Regions from separate parts of the Homo sapiens genome. Here region 1 is linked to region 2. Evidence: fine-mapped expression QTL. A gene starts in region 2. The other region holds a variant in brackets. All regions are shown on one strand. Distances are between the middles of the regions.

Region 1 (5,376 bases), 40 kb after region 2:
TCTTCCAATTTCTTTAAAAATGGAGTTGTAATGAAGCAAAATTAACAATGAGAAAACCCCTGAGTCAGTGAGTGTGGCAGAGTGTGTATGGGAGCTTTGTTTCCCTGACTCAGAGGAGAGCGATTGCCCTGGTCCAGACCCACCTGGGCCCTGCCTATGTGCCATTTACCTCACAGGGAGGGTTCTGTGAAGAAAATGGAGACCACGTGAACGCCAGCCGCCAGCAAGTCAGTAACCCCTGTGCACCATTTCCTTTTTTTAAAACAATTAAATTCCAAGGCTAAAAATGTGCAGAGACCGCCTCCTTCACTTCCAATGCTCCCGGCAGACACACACAAGGAACTCAGTCCTGAGACACTGATTTCGTGCCACATCCCACGTGTCCGTTCTAATGTCACCCCAAATACAACCTCACTGGCTACAAATAAGACAAAAATGAAAACTAAAACACACACGTTTATCACCCCCCAATGAGGCAACCCGGCCAGGAGCCCAGCAGGCAGATGTGCCTGTACGAGATGCTGGCCAGCAGTGCAGAGGGTGAGACGGGGGCCAGGCCTCGTGGAAGGGGATGGCACGGGCACAGCTGTGCGGAGGAGGGAAGTCTCAAGGCTTCTTGCGCCCAAGAGCGCGCACTGCAGAGGGGAAGAGGCTGGGAAGGCAGGCGGCCACCGCGGGGACAGTGAGGGCACGGGCTGGACTGGGGCCCCAGCAGAGGTGACAGCAGATGCCCTGAGGCCACTCCTCCAGCACCAACGAAATTGAGATTGTTGCCCCCAGAATCTGCTATCCCAGAATCTGCTATGGAGGCACAGGGAGCACAGAGACCACGAGACTGAAAATGTGAACTCAATGACGGAGGGCCTGTGGGAACCAAGGAGTGGCAACATGGGACATGCAGATGGCAAGTATTGTATAAAAAGAATGTTCCAGAGAGCTCAGCTGAGAGAAGAAGGCAGGACAGCAAGTATTGTATAAAAAGCATGTTCCAGAGAGCTCAGCTGAGAGCAGAAGGCAGGACAGCAAGTATTGTATAAGCATGTTAGCATGTTTCAGACAGCTCAGCTGAGAGAAGAAGGCAGGATAGCAACTAATGGAGGACACGGTCTAAGGATGTTTTCGTTTTTTAAAAAGATGAGTAAAACTTGTGGACTTTTATATGCTAAGAAAAAGCAAGTAGGGAGGGGATTGAGGCAGGAAAAAGATGTGACACAGCGGAGCCCCCAAGGAAGAGGGTCCAGCACAGCAGAGTCCATTAAGGGCCTGGCGGAGATACAGGGTGGGGAAGGTGGTGCAGGGGGCACAGTCAGGATGGAGGGATGCAGGAGAATGAAGGGGCCCAGCATCTCCACCAGAGTCTCGGGGTGGGGGGAAGAGGTGCAGGAGGCACAGTCAGGATGGAGGGATGCAGGAGAATGAAGGGCCCAGCACAGCAGAGCCCATCCAGGGCCTGGCGGAGACACAGGGTGGGGGGGAAGGTGGTGCAGGAGGCACAGTCAGGATGGAGGGGTGCAGGAGAATGAAGAGGCCCAGCATCTCCACCAGAGTCTCGGGGTGGGGAAGGTGGTGTAGGGGGCAGAGTCAGGATGGAGGGATGCAGGAGAATGAAGGGGCCCAGCATCTCCACCAGTGTCGGGACAGGGAAGAGGTGCAGGAGGCAGAGTCAGGATGGAGGGGTGCAGGATAACGAAGGGGCCCAGCATCTCCACCAGAGTGTCCGGGGTGGGTGGGTGGAGGCGGCGGGAAGGGGGCAGGCCAGCATAGCAGAGCCCAGCCAGGGCCAGTATCTCCACCAGAGTCTCAGGGTGGGGAAGTGGTACAGGGGGCAGAGTCAGGATGGAGGGGTGCAGAATGAAGCGGACAGGCCCAGCTGAGCCGAAGCCATGCTGCTATCTTCCAGCAATACTACTATAATAAAAAGGAAAACAATCCGCAATTTAAAAAGTGACACAAACCTTCATGATGGCTGGATCAATATAATCAGCTATATTATGGCCTTCCCAGATTTCTGGTATCTTATCATGTTTTTCAGACAAATTCATTAAATCCCAGTACTCTAAAGTTAAAAAAAAGGTGGTTACGTTTACAGCAGTTTTTAATATCTTCAAGTACTACGTGCGCAAAATGAGTTGTGACTGACGGCAAATCAACGACTCCACTGCAGAAGAGAGCACGACGTGCAATTCCACATGCAGCAGCATCAACACATCAGCCTCATTCAACACCCACACGTGGAGAAAGCTACAGAAATCACCCCACCATCCCAAAACAACAGGAAACAACACATCAGCCTCATTCAACACCCACACGTGGAGAAAGCTACAGAAATCACCCCACCATCCCAAAACAACAGGAAACAACACATCAGCCTCATTCAACACCCACACGTGGAGAAAGCTACAGAAATCACCCCACCATCCCAAAACAACAGGAAACAATGGAAGAACCCCCACTGAGTGCTATCAGCATGCACCTTTCTTTGAGACAGAGTCTCACTCTGTCGTCCAGGCTGGAGGGCAGAGGTACAATTTCTGCCCACTGCAGCCTTG[T/A]CCTCCTAGGGTCAAGTGATCCTCCCACCTCAGCCTCCCGTGTCACTGGAACTACAGGCACATGCCACCACACCCGGCTAATCTTTGTATTTTTTGTAGAGACGGGGTTCTGCCATGTTGCCCAGGTTGGTCTCAAACTCCTGGGCATAAGGGATCCAAAGTGCTGTGATTACAGGCGTGAGCCACTGCACCTGGCCCTCAGGATGCAACTTTTAATCTTCAAGAAATTAAAAGTTGACAAATAGGCTGAAACACTTTTATTACTTATTAAAGTCTTTCCCCCATTTTCTGAAATACTTCACGTCCAATTGGCATTTTATAATAATGATCACACTCTGGCCCTTACTCTGAAGATCCAAAATATAATCATCTCCCATTTCCAGCTCAAGATCTCGTTCCTGCAATAGAAAGAGAAATTATCATCAGCTTCATTTTGCCTTTCAGATCCAGAAATGCTCTGCCCCTTGTCACTTGAAACAATCTTTTCTCCAATCCTCTCAGTATCAGTGGGGTTCACCTTCCATTTCTGGTAGGAAGGCTGTTTCTTATCTCCCTGTCTGCGGGGCCAGCCTTTGGGTTCTGGTAGGAAGAGGCTGTTTCTTATCTCCCTGTCTGTGGGGCCGGCCTTTAGGTTCTGGTAGGAAGAGGCTGTTTCTGGCCATCTGGGGACTGTCTATCCCACTCATGCATTTGGTTCACGGCCATCTTCCCTCAGGCCAAAGAGCCCCATGAGAGAGGCTTCTGCAGGGGGACTCACTGCTGTGTCCGCAGCCTGACGGGGCCAGTGTCTGGGCACCCGCGGCTCCTGTTCGATGCCCCAGGCCCCCACGATGGGCACACACAGCCTGCCTCCCCCCATGAGAACACTGGGCGAGAGCTTCGGCAGCATACCCTCTTCTTCCTGGACTCCTCAGTTTCCATCCTCTTCCTGCGAGCCACCACTCCTTCAGGGATGAAAGGGGGCCTCTCCTGAGAAGATCCCATATAAAATATTTATGTGAAATGCCTGCTGAATGAGAAACTTACAAAGCCGAAAAAGTAGAAACAAATTCCCTACGTGCAAGGGGAACAGAAAACCATACCCAGACCAATGAACAACCAACAGATTATTTTAGGGGAGAGGAGTGGGTTCATACCGAGACCAATTAACAACCAACAGATTATTTTAGGGGAGAGGAGTGGGTTCAGGGTCACTTTGAGCACAGAGACCAGGAGGACTCCACAAAGTGATTCCAAAGTTTATCCAGGAAAAACAGAAATCATGATTATCATGAAAAATTATGGAAGAAGAAAGTGGTAAGAAATAACACTGGATCAACAGATGAAAGAAATTTAGACATAAACTCAAGTGCATATAAGAATTCAATGGAAACATAAAATTTCCAATACTCAGGTCAGAAATGCCGACCACTTGAAACGGAGTGCAACCTCCACCCTCACAACATAACCAACTCAAGACACGGTGAAGACTATCCAAAAAAGCTAATTTTTAATGCTAGTATAAAAGATAATTTTTTTTTTTTGACAGAGTCTCACTCTTGTCACCCAGGCTGGAGTACAGTGGAGTGATCTCGGCTCACTGCAACCTCCACCTCCCAGGTTCAAACGATTCTCCCGCCTCAGCCTCCTGAATAGGTAGAATTATAGGTGCGCGCCCGACTAATTTTCGTAGTTTTAGCAGAGATGGGGTTTCACCATGATTGCCAGGCTGGTCTCAGACTCTTGACCTCAGGTGATCCACCCGCCTCGGCCTCCCAGAGTGCTGGGATTACAGACGTGAGCCACTGCACCCAGCAAGAAAAGATACTTTTAAAATGACTTTGGAATGAATGGTAAGCCTTTCTATGTACAATGCAAACCTGAACACCCAGAAAAAAAAATTAATATATGTTAATAGTTCAAAAATGTACAGCACATTTGAAGTTAAAAAGGCAAGTGACAAAAAGAGAAAAAAATTTGCAATGTATCTGACAAGAATCCAACCTTTGTAATACAAAAGTAACAAATCAGCGAGAAAAAGATAAACAGCCTAAAGAACTTTGAAAAGGCCAATAAGCAGACAAACATGCTCAACCGCACCCAGCATTACATAAACACACAACAATAAAATCATCTTTACACAAGACTGACAGTCAGTGCCCGACCACGCCGAGGACACAAGGAAAGACAGAGGGAAGGACACAGCCTCCAGCGTCAGTGCAGCACACACCAGGAAGGCGTCTGTGGGACAGGAACGTTGTCAACACCACATGGTGAAGTGCAGACACATTTGCAGTAAAACATGAAGACACAGCGTAACGATGTGTGCCCATTCACAATGGACAAAACAATGAAAATTTATTTTATTTATTTTTTATAGAGACAGGGTCCCACTATGTTGCCCAGGCTGGTCAAGAACTCCTGGGCTTAAGCAATCTTCCCACCTTGGCCTCCCAAAGTGCTGGGATTACAGGCGTGAGCTACTTCCCCCAGCCAAAAAAATGAAAATTTAAAGAATGAAACAGATTTCCATCTGTGTTTAAAGAACTTTTTAGAAACTAATCTTCTATATCAGAAACATTTCTGGAAGGATAAACTAACAGTGACCACGTCATGCAGTGGGAAACGGGTGCCATGTGGCGTTCTGCACTTTCTTCACCTTCTCGATCCTTTATGTAAGCAAGAAGGTGAAACTGAGGCCCACCCACAATATCCACCTGCGAGTGTGTGAAGCTGGATGGGAGGCTTCTGGAAAAGGCACGCAGACAGCACCTGCTGACAGTACTGTGAGCCCACGGCTGTCCCAGGGGCCGTCTTACCTTATCGTCCCTCCTGGTTGGGATAGCCA
Region 2 (5,376 bases):
ACCTAATCCTGGTGAAGATGTGAACACTGTTGAAATGATAACAAAGGATTCAGAATACTCCATAGACTTAGTTTATGAAGTAGCAGCAGGGTTTGAGAGGATTGACTCTAACTTTGGAAGTTTTCCTGGCCGGGTGCGGTGGCTCATGCCTATAATCCCAGCATTTTGAGAGGCCAAGGTGGGCAGATCACAAGGTCAGGAGTTCAAGACCAGCCTGGCCAACATGGTGAAACCCAAGCTCTACTAATAATACAAAAATTAGCCGGGCATGGTGGCACACGCCCATAGTGCCAGCTACTCATGAGGCTGAGGTAGGAGAATTGCTTGAACCCAGGAGGTGGAGGTTACAGTGAGCCAAGATCGCACCACTGCACTTCAGCCTGGGCGAAAGAACGAGACTCTGTCTCAAAAAAAAGTTTTCCTGTGGTTTAAAAAAAATCTTTCATGAAAAGAATTGTCAATCAACGTGACAAATTTCATTATTGTCTTATTTTAAGAAACTGCAACAGCCACCCCAACTTTCAAGCACCACCTTGATCAACAGCCATCAACATTGAGGCAAAACCCTCCACCAGCAAAAAGATTATGACTCATTGAAGGCTCAGCTGATGGTTAGCAGTAAAAAATATTAACTTTAATCATCTCGACCATTCAGTACTCATCTAATATTCTCTATAACAAAATGGGAAATGCACATAAAGCACTTCTGCTACATGCTGAATTATGATTGTTGTCTCCAGGAAAAGAACTTGTGGGAACGTTTGAGTTGTAAGCTGAACTAACTAGCTGCTTTTTTCATGAAATACCGCTTTTACTGGAAAGAACTGACAGATAAACTGAGGTATTCAAACCTAGATATTTGGCAGACATTTTCGTGAAAATAAATATGTTCGTGCCACTTCAAGGAACATAATTCTCAGTACTTGTTGCCAATAATGTTGGAATTTTCATGCAAAAATTCAAATAAAAAACAAACTTAAAACCATCAAGAACTTGGTGACTTTATGTGGAAGCCAGTGCTACAATACTTTAGCTTCCCAATACTTAAAAACTTTTCTGATGAGATTACTAGTGATATTAACAATGTGATTGATATTGAATAATGAAATGTTTTAGCATTTGGAAGATCTGTTTAATTCAGTAAATCAGTATTTTCCAAATGACCAATGCATGACATTTCAACATCACGCACAGGAAAATAGGCATTCGAGGTACAGTCAAAAATAATGAGTTTTAATGTAACAAGTACAAAATGTCCATTGAAGTGGTTTCAAATTCCAAATAGTAATTGGAAAATCCACCACTCGTGTTTTGGGGTAGTAGTATCGAAAAAGAATAACCAAGATAATTTGAAAAGGCTATTAAAAAATACTTCTCAATTTTCAAACTGCATACAGCAGGTGCTCATTCATTTCTTTGTAACATTGATGAGAAAAAGACTCCCAGCCAGGGGCACTGTCTTTGTGGTGTTTACGTGTTCTCGCCACACCTGCATAGGTTTTCTCTGGGTGCTGCAGTTCTTGCCACATCCCAGAGGTGTGCACGTGAGGTGAACTGGTGTGTCTTCACTGTCCCAGTCTGAGTGTGGGTGTGTGAGTGGCCCTGTGATGGAATGGCGTCCTGTCCAGGGCTGGTTCCCTCTTTGTGCCCTGAGCTACTGAAACAGGCTTCAGCTACACATGACCCAGAACTGGAATAATTAAGTAATAATTATCTTTTTATTCATCTTTCTTAAATGTATGTATAGCTCACATTTATTTCAATGTTTAATATTAGAATACTTTGGCCTTTAGAAGCTTAGTGATTTTTTTTTTCCTTGGCCAGAAGTATGCTTTAGGAACTTAATCCTTATTTTTTAGCCTCTGGTAAAATTGGTTTTGCTATACGTTGTTTCACTTAAAAGTCCTGATTCCCAAGAACGCACTGACAGCAGTGAGGACTTGCTGCGCATGCGGGAGGCCAGATTTTCTTATCTGTGTGAAGCCAGACATGAAAGAGATCTGTCAACACATAAAACAAAATCAAAGTCTGTTTTTTGTCTGGAAAAGATTTTTAATAAAAATATAACTTATGTTAGTGTCGTGTGTTTTTTAAGTGAATATTTTAATATGTTTAATTTCTATGTTAGTAAATAGCAGTAGTAAACAACAGTGAGCAAAAGCTTTTAGGTGTCCTCAGTACATTTTAAGAGAGTGCAAGCGTCCTGTGACCAAGAAGTTTGAGAACTGGTGCCCACCAGGTTCATCTCACAAGTTCAGTATTTTAAATTCCACACAAAAGGTAGAGGAAATAGCTGAATTCGCTTCAGCTGCGCATACATTTCACGATTATTTAAAAGTTTAGAGGGCTAGGCGCGGTGGCTCACACCCGGAATCTCAGCACTTCGGTAAGCTGAGCCAGGTGGATCACTTGAGGTCAGGAGTTCCAGACCAGCCTGACCAACATGCGGAAACCCGTCTCTACTAAAAATACGAAATAAGCCGGGCGTGGTGGCGCATGCCTGTAATTCCAGCTACTTGGGAGGCTGAGACGGGACAATTGCCTGAACCCGGGCGGCGGAGGTTGCTGTGAGCGGAGACTGCACCATTGCACTCAAGCCTGGGCAACAAGAATGAAACTGTCTCAAAAAAAAAAAATTTAGAACGTAGTCATGTACCTCGAAAGCGAACACTCCCAACATAGCGTGGAACACCCCACACCCCCGGCGACTTTGCTCCGCCTTGGTCCCGGTCGCAGACACCGCAGAAAGGCCATCGTTCTAGACATACGAGAACTCCCCGTGCAGCCAAACGCTGTAGTCCCAGCGGCGGAACTCGGGGGGGGGGAGGGGGGGGAGTGCCCAACCAGCCAGTCAGCAGTGACGTCCCGCCTTTCCTCCGTTTCCATTGGTCCAGCCATGCGGAGGTCGCTCCCATGGGACGCCGAGCTTCCGGCTGCAGGGCTTGGCGCCCGGGCGCTTTCGGATTGGGAGGGCTTCCTCCATGGAACGCGAGCCTCGAGACGTCTGACGTTAGGCACCGTTCGCAGCGCCTCGGGCTCGCACGGCAGGATCGAAAGCGTGATTGGCTGGCGGCGTCTGTGGTCTCGGGCACCGCCCAGTCGCGGGACGCTGCCTCTGCGGAACTGGGGGTGGGGCGTGTTGACCCCCTTAAAGGCGCCAGAGCCCGCGGTCACGGCTCAGGTTCCCGGTGCTTCGCGCGTCTGCCGTTGTCACAGGCCAGGGAGGTGGCACCACCAGGCGAAGCTTGGCGAGATTGTGTCGTCAAGCGCGTACGGGCGCCAATTGGCCGGGCGATGTGGCGTGGACTGGCGCTGGCGCGAGCGATTGGCTGCGCGGCCCGGGGGCGGGGCCAGTGGGCGGTGCGCGCCGCAGACTGTGCTCAAAGCGGGCGCCATCCGGGACCGGCGGTTGTCTGTGGCCGGAGGCTGATCAGGTACTGTGGACGGGCGGCGGAGTTCGGGAGACAGGGGCAGGGCGGCATCGGGGAGCTGCGGGACGGGGCGGGGAGGAGGCCCGAGGTCTGAGCCACCCGTGAGGTCTCGGCGCGGAGGCCTGGACAGCTGGGGGTGGCGGCGTTGGTCTCCCGAACTGGAGGGAGGCCGGGCCTTCCCGGGCTGTGGTGGGCGCCCGCGCCCCGTGGAAGGCGGAGGCGTGAGTCGGGGCGTCAGAGACGTTGCCATTCTTTGTCAGCGGAAAAGATCGTCGTCTGCGCACAGTCACCTGAGGTTTAGGAACTCGTGGAACTGGAAACCGAGTCGCAGGAGACTAAGAGTTGCGAGTCTCCCCTTAGAGAATTCAGAAACAAGCGTAGACAGCATCGTCAGAAACACGAGCGTGACGACACCGGCCTCCCCGTGCCGAGTCCACGCGTGTGACGCGGGTGCATACACCTGCGTCCGTGCAAGAGGGTGACAGCAACACACTCAAGGCGCTTCTCCTGGGAATGGAGCAGGAGAAGAGATGGGGAGCATCGCATAGATGGAACTAGACCTTTTTCTTGGGTTGGATGATGTGTTCCCGCGTCTACTACATGGTATTCTTTAAACGCATAAATAGACGTATTCATTTTATCTTGTGATTATGCAGCTTAGCTTTAAAATCTGAATTCTGAAAATCCTGAAAGAGCAATTGTCATTACAGCTGGGCGGTGGTGCACGCCTTTAATCCCAGCACTTTGGGAGGCGGAGTCGAAGGCTGCAGTGAGCCGAGATCGCGCCACTGCACTCCAGCTTGGGCGACAGACATAGCAAGACCCAGCCCCATCCCCCCGGAAAAAAAGTCATGTCAAAAAGTCTAGTAATTATGTAGTAACGAAACCTATCTTAGTGATCACCTAATATACAGTTGGCCTACTGTATCCTTGGGGTCCATATCCATGGATTTAACCAACTGCACATTATAAAATATTTGGAAAAAAATTTCATCTGTACTGAACATATACAGACTTATTCTGTAAACAATACAGCACAACTATTTATGTAGGATTTACATGTTTTAGATACTATAAGAGATCATCTACAGATGATAATTTAACGTTCGGCCCGCATCACTTAACAGGGATACTTTGGAGAAGTTCATTGTTAGGTACTTTCATCATTGTGGAAGCAGAGTGCGCTGACGCAGACCTAGACAGTGGAGCAGCTGGGCTGTGTGGTGTAGACAGACGGTGGAGCAGCTGGGCTGTGTGGTGTAGACAGTGGAGCAGCTGGGCTGTGTGGTGTAGACAAAGGACCAGACAGTGGAGCAGCTGGGCTGTGTGGTGTAGACAGTGGAGCAGCTGGGCTGTGTGGTGTAGACAGTAGACAGTGGAGCAGCTGGGCTGTGTGGTGTAGACAGTGGAGCAGCTGGGCTGTGTGGTGTAGACAGTGGAGCAGCTGGGCTGTGTGGTGTAGACAGTGGAGCAGCTGGGCTGTGTGGTGTAGACAGTGGAGCAGCTGGGCTGTGTGGTGTAGACAGTGGAGCAGCTGGGCTGTGTGGTGTAGACAGTGGAGCAGCTGGGCTGTGTGGTGTAGACAGTGGAGCAGCTGGGCTGTGTGGTGTAGACAGTGGAGCAGCTGGGCTGTGTGGTGTAGACAGTGGAGCAGCTGGGCTGTGTGGTGTAGACAGTGGAGCAGCTGGGCTGTGTGGTGTAGACAGTGGAGCAGCTGGGCTGTGTGGTGTAGACAGTGGAGCAGCTGGGCTGTGTGGTGTAGACAGTGGAGCAGCTGGGCTGTGTGGTGTAGACAGTGGAGCAGCTGGGCTGTGTGGTGTAGACAGTGGAGCAGCTGGGCTGTGTGGTGTAGACAGTGGAGCAGCTGGGCTGTGTGGTGTAGACAGTGGAGCAGCTGGGCTGTGTGGTGTAGACAGTGGAGCAGCTGGGCTGTGTGGTGTAGACA

What was found. PIP is the estimated chance that this variant, and not a neighbour inherited with it, causes the effect.
Region 1: its variant is fine-mapped to the expression of IDI1 in blood mononuclear cells (TOPMed, PIP above 0.99). The same link has a PIP of 0.9 or more in whole blood.

The regions. Positions count from the first base shown.
Region 1 is chr10:1,007,100-1,012,475 of GRCh38, reverse strand. It overlaps GTPBP4 (GTP binding protein 4), which reads right to left. Exons shown (of 17, transcript NM_012341.3): 10 at 5,348-5,376; 11 at 3,441-3,518; 12 at 2,896-2,947; 13 at 1,956-2,056; 14 at 1-11. Among named protein-coding and RNA genes, the nearest start is that of IDI2-AS1, 13 kb to the left of the region's middle. RefSeq lists enhancers at 2,857-3,357, 3,358-3,858. The variant T/A (reference allele first, on the strand shown) is at 2,550.
Region 2 is chr10:1,046,922-1,052,297 of GRCh38, reverse strand. It overlaps IDI1 (isopentenyl-diphosphate delta isomerase 1), which reads left to right and starts at 3,179. Exons shown (of 5, transcript NM_004508.4): 1 at 3,179-3,434. The coding sequence starts at 3,295. RefSeq lists enhancers at 2,531-2,670, 2,342-2,871, 3,131-3,180, 2,872-3,401, 3,402-3,932 and silencers at 3,271-3,490, 3,501-3,590.